2 separate regions of the Homo sapiens genome follow, and region 2 is linked to region 1. A link means that fine-mapping ties the variant in region 1 to the expression of a gene that starts in the linked region. Tissue or cell type: atrial appendage. Region 1 holds a variant in brackets; the other region holds the start of a gene. All regions are shown on one strand. Distances are from middle to middle.

What was found. PIP is the estimated chance that this variant, and not a neighbour inherited with it, causes the effect. A credible set is the group of variants that fine-mapping cannot tell apart.
Region 2: it holds the start of PCDH15, and the variant in region 1 is the best candidate, but not a certain one, in a credible set for the expression of PCDH15 in atrial appendage (GTEx, PIP 0.60).

What each region holds. Positions count from the first base shown.
Region 1 is chr10:54,841,781-54,844,717 of GRCh38, reverse strand. It overlaps a transcript of PCDH15 not described here. Among named protein-coding and RNA genes, the nearest start is that of PCDH15, 42 kb to the right of the region's middle. The variant C/T (reference allele first, on the strand shown) is at 1,518.
Region 2 is chr10:54,799,975-54,802,911 of GRCh38, reverse strand. PCDH15 (protocadherin related 15) reads left to right here and starts at 1,681. Exons shown (of 38, transcript NM_001384140.1): 1 at 1,681-1,987.

The DNA.
Region 1 (2,937 bases):
TTTATTTCTGAACTTCTTAGTGTTAACAGTGTTTTCAGTGACTGCTGCATGTGGATACATATTTCTGAAAAATTATTAATATTCAAAAAAAAAGCAAAAGAAAACTTGCCTTTACTCAGGATGCACCAAATCACGAGTGAAGAAAATCCATCATAAATCCACCAAAGCAGGAGTGAGGGAAAGCATATATGTGAATCCATCCCATCAAAGCAGGAGTGAGGGAAAGCATATATGTGAATCCATCAAAGCAAGAGTGAGGGAAAGCATATATGTGTCAGCACTATGAAGGCATATGCCTAAATTTCTGTTTAAAAAGTAGGGAGAGTGATATTATATAAATAGCAGGGCTCCAGTTAACAAGGTAAGTTGTTCTTGAGTTCTAGCATCTCCTCAAAATGTACTGTATCTTGATTTTAACAAATAGTTTGTTCTTTTTCTCTGTCTCTGTCTCTCCCCTCACTAACACACACATTTATATTTCATAAAAAATAAGATTTGTGAAAGTATTACTGTAGCTTTCCAAGGCATCTGAATCATCACTAGCACCTCTTATCTATTTGTATTTGCCAAATGGAACTGGCTGTGTAGATATAATTAGCCTTCATCCTGTGGTTGAATGATGTGGACATACTTTTACCTCTTTTAAATCATGCCTTTCTTAACTCAGTAGGATAACACTGAAATATATAAGAAAAGTTATTTCAGCCATGCTCTGTGTTATATTTTGAAATGAGATTCTATGCTAAAACTATTTTCCTATTTTGATAAACAGTCACAAGACATGTTAAATCGTATTTTTGTGTTCATTGCCATTTGTCATGTATTTTCCAATTGCCATTTGTCCAATTGTTCATTGCCATTTGTCATGTATTTTCCAACTGGGGACTCAAAACACTGATCCCCGTAAGATGTATCAGGGAACTGTTCAGAAATTTCAATTGCTTGTCTAGCACTTTTACTACTTTTTAACTTTATTTACTACGTTTATTGAAGCAAACTCTTTTGACTAGTTTTGTCATGTTAACAATCGTCAAATTATCTTAATGAAATCATCTTAATGAAATTCACTCTATGTTATAAAATGTTAAAATATAAGAATTGAGCAAATGTATGATGTGTGTGTAGAAAAGCTAAATAACTATCAGAATATAAAGTCGACAAGCAAAATCTTCAATTTGAGTTATGTCTCTCAGGACATAAAAATAACGTTAAGTCAGTAAGAGAGTAAGTAAAGATCAAGTGTCAGCCTGTCAGACACACATAAATCACAATTAAGATGTTTTCTAATTATAAATGCATTTCTTGGCATTAAACTCCAGCTCGAGCATGTCAGAAGGAAATGTTAATATTCTGACCCAGAAGTCTGGCGGCATTAGATTTGCCTGATTGTTAAGCTTACATATTAATATAGGAGGTACCTTTGTTTGGCTCAAATCCCTCTCCCTTGAGCAGGATGCCAATTATTTTCCATGCCAATTTTTCAACTGCCAGGGCACAGCTTTACTTGTTCAGTTCTC[C/T]CTAAAGTTCATGAAGCCAAACGATACAACAACAATGAAAAGAATGCTTTATTAAGATTGACTTTTAAGGGCTTTCTGGATACTGCTGAGATACTGCTGAGGGTATGCTCTCAGTATTACATTTTGAAAACTATTTGAAATGTGTGTCAGAGCTCCTTGACCCTTAAAGGATCGTATAAGCTGGAGATGGACTATATTTCAGCTCTGATATCTTTGTTCTTTCCGATAGTCAGTTTTCATTACATTAACATACGATGACACTTATTTCTTTTTATTTTCCTCCCAATAATGCCTGCCTTCCTTTTCCTTTGGCAACAGCAAACCTATTTACCCTGGAATTTCCATATGAAAGCTGCTTGCTATTAAACACCTGTACTAGAAAACATAAGACTTTCATTATCCAAAAGATGCTTCAGTCTGTGTCCTAGAGATTTTTTTATATGAGGTAATACCATACAAAATAAAGTTGAATTTTACTGACTGTATACAAAATAAATAAGATAATCGCTGTTGTAGTTACATAAATTGGAGCAAGGATGTAAGCAGACTAACTACAAAGTCCACAAATACATTAAGATTCTTTGACTTTATATATAGTTGTAGCAATTTACATTATTCCTAATCTATGCTTACCTCACACATCTACAGAATATCTTAGTAGAATTTCAAAACATATTTTAAAATTAGAACCTTAGATGATTTCCTTATAGAATTTAATGACAAGGTTTCCTCCTGAGTTTTGAACCTTGATGGAGTAGCAAAGATTCATTGCTCTAAGAAATGGATGCAGACGGGCAGGTCACAAATTACTAAGTGTGAGTTACTAGAATCAGAGGAAATGATTTGAGGGAGACATTAACAAAAGATATGTTGTAGAAGAAAGGGTGCTAATAGTTAATAATTTTAACAATAGGTCTGGATGGAGAAAAAATAAAATTACGAAGACTCTACCAATTAAATCTGTCTCATTTATTCATATTCTCTCTCTCTCTGTCTCACACACACACACACACACACGCACACATACACACACTTTTCCTTTCTCTTTTCAGTAGCTTGACAGATTTGAAATTATCATGAACGTTTATGAATTTTGTAGTTACATAAGAGAATAAGTCCAATTTCAAGTTCCTCGATATAACTAAAGATCTTTATTTCCTATGATGTGATTTATTCTCTTAATTTGACCCTCTTCCCCCTGGAAAATAGCATATGTGCTTATTGAAATGAACTTAAGCAATACAGAACTAATATGGCATCATATAAAAATAAACATTGTTTATATCAGGTAATTATCAGTCTAGACATCACTATAGGCACATATGCAGGAAGAATAAGAGAGTGCTACAGATCTATCTGTTTAAAATGACAAATGTCTTCAAAAAATGATTGTAATAATATGCATTATATATTTAATTGA
Region 2 (2,937 bases), 42 kb after region 1:
TAATTGAATTGCTCTGAGAAGATGAGGAAGGGATAAAATTTTCTGTTTTCTAGCTATATTTCTGATGTGTCATCAGAGTTATCATTGAACATTACCACGAATGAGGCTGAATTGTCATTAGAAAAATAACTACACTTAATAATTCTTATGGTTACTGAAACAATCTTAAAATACCAGCTGCTCTATTCAACAAATATCAATATATGGATTGCTCCACAGGTGAGACATTTAGTGAAATGAACAGAAAAACTTCTCACACAAAATATGCTCATTATTTAAACATGTATCAATAAAGTTATCTTTATTAACACATCAATTTTAAAATCTAAAAATATCAGTTCTAACAAGTGTATAATGTATTCACTTATTACAAGTCCTCATTGACTCCCACTGATCTGTGGTTTTAAGGAAGCAAGTAATTTAGTTTGTTTCAGTGGTACATAAAATAAAAACAAATGGGTTCCACTTGAGGCTCAAGGGGTTCATCTATAATTATCTGATTTACTTCTACACGTGTTAATGTTTAAAATGTATAACACATTTGGCTTGCCTCAGATTATTTCCATATTCTTAAAGATTTTTCCCTCCCTCTGGAAAACTGAGCCTGCAAGATAAGTCCATTTTGTTTTAAATGAGATGTTATTTTCTGCAAATGCTTGTGCATAAATACGGCAACATTTCTGGAGGCATGGTTTTCTTTTTCTTCTTAGAGTTAATGTATCATCCTAGTAAATAATCCACATGGTTCATTAAGAAAACATGTGTTCTGGGGCTTTTGTCTGTGATAGTCTTCACCTGTCATTTTCAACCAGCCTCAGCCTATCTGCTCTGTCACAATCACTACTAAAATATGTTCCTAAATTGCTTGTTTCTAGATCCTTCCTTCTCATATGCTCAGGTGAACACATGGGTGAAATTTAATATGGAATTGAAATATGTACTATGCAAGATAGATTCCTTAAGAAATGTTTCTCTGATTTATATGACATAATTGTATTTTACTAGTTTACCTGTCCATCTGTAAAACTTTGTTTTGGAGATTTCATATATTACAATGTTTAAGAAATATGCTATAATGTTTTGTATAGTATATTTCTTCGTGATAACCTTATATACTACCAGTCACACGTGTTTGTAAAAATCTAAAGAGTACTTTTGGCTCCTACAGAATGTGTGAAGTTGTGAAATTGTTTTTTTGTTTTGTTTTGTTTTGTTTTTATGCCCCAAAGATGTGGAGGGCTTCATATAAGAGGGTAGATTTAATGAGAGAGAGAGGGAGAGACAGAGAGAATGATAAAAGAAGCTTAAGAGATTATTTTATCTTGTCAACGACATTGTTATTGAATGTAAGCTGCTAAACTTCTTAGATAAAGTAAAACAGTAAAAACAAACACACAAAACAGAACAGAGAATCATCAGACAGGCTGACGAACACAGTACAATAAAGCAGCCAGTACCGATGATCAGTGGACATCAATTTGTCTTTTGGGCTGTAGCACCTGCTACTAATTGGTGCAAAGCGCTCACCAGTCAGTGCGTGGTTTAGCGCACTCAGCTGTCTCCTGTATGTGCTGCGAGAAGCAAGATAGCTAATTGCTGTTGCTTCAGTGCCAGTGAAATCAACGTGCTGAGCTAATAGCGACAGATAGAGGGCAGACAGATTCCTGCTAGCAGCTTAGTGTTAGTTGCTTGTGGTAACTAAGGCAGGTGGCATACATCTCAGAACGTGGAGAATGATGGTATGCTTTCTGAGTTAACATGTTGAACTGTTTTGCTTTTCTAAAAATTTTCCTAGTAACATTTTCTTGATGATATGAGAGTGGATATCAATGCCTCACAGAAACAAGAGGTGGAACATGTGAATGAATCGTCTTGGAACTAGATTATGAGCACTGGTTCTTTTTAAAGGGATGTGCAAGAGGCAGCCTTGGCAAGAAAACTTGCTGCATAATCTTACATGGACTAAAGATGAAACTTTAAACCGCAAGTAAGTTCTTCCCCCGCCCTTCTCTTATTTTTTTCAAATTTAAGGCAGCAGTGAACCACAGAGAAAGTTAAGATGTTCTTTCAGTACAATGATCTCTGTCATGATGCTACTTTCTGTCATGCTTGTTGAAAGAATAGAGTAGTAATGATTGCAAGTGATTATTTGCTGGAAGAGTGAACACAACTGCCTGTCCTTTCATTCTTCCTGATTACTGTCTGGTATTGTAATTTTGTTTAGATGACAATGTAATCTTTACAAAGACACAAGCTTTTGAATTATAACTCTGGTTTGTTATTTAAAAGAATTTTTAGTCCTCAACCACTTCTTCTACTTCCTCCAACCTGAAAAAATACAGAAAAATGGCATCAGAATTGACTTTTTGTTTTTCTGTGTGCAAATATTGATGATTTGTTTTATGAGTGGTTGTTGCTGGAGGTTATAGTTGGCAGTTGAGTTAAAGTAGCTAATTCTGCCTCACAATGAACAGTATTTTTTGTCTTTTGTGAGTATACTGATATTTTTACTGTGGATGTTTTAGTTTATTAGAATATTTACTTCCTTTGTGCGTATCTGGAAGCATTAACCATTTAGAATTTGAATCTAGGTCAACTGTATCCTTCTAATACAGAATTAATGCTAGATAGTATTAACAGCTTTCCCACTTTGTGATGTGGCCTTTACTTTAAAAAATATACTTTGGTAGCTATAGAGTGGGTGGGCCCTGAATAACAAGTTTCAGGTTCAGTGTGTTGATACTCTGTGTCTCTAGTACACACAGATGGCCATCGATTTGATGGACTTGTAGCACGTATGCAGAAAGCCATTGTTAACTAGAGTATAATATGATGGCCTCCTGTAAGGTTAACTCCAAGTCATACTCATTTGCTTTCACAAAAGAGCCAATTGTCAAATCTAGTAACCAAATACTTAAGTTATTATGTTGCTTAACA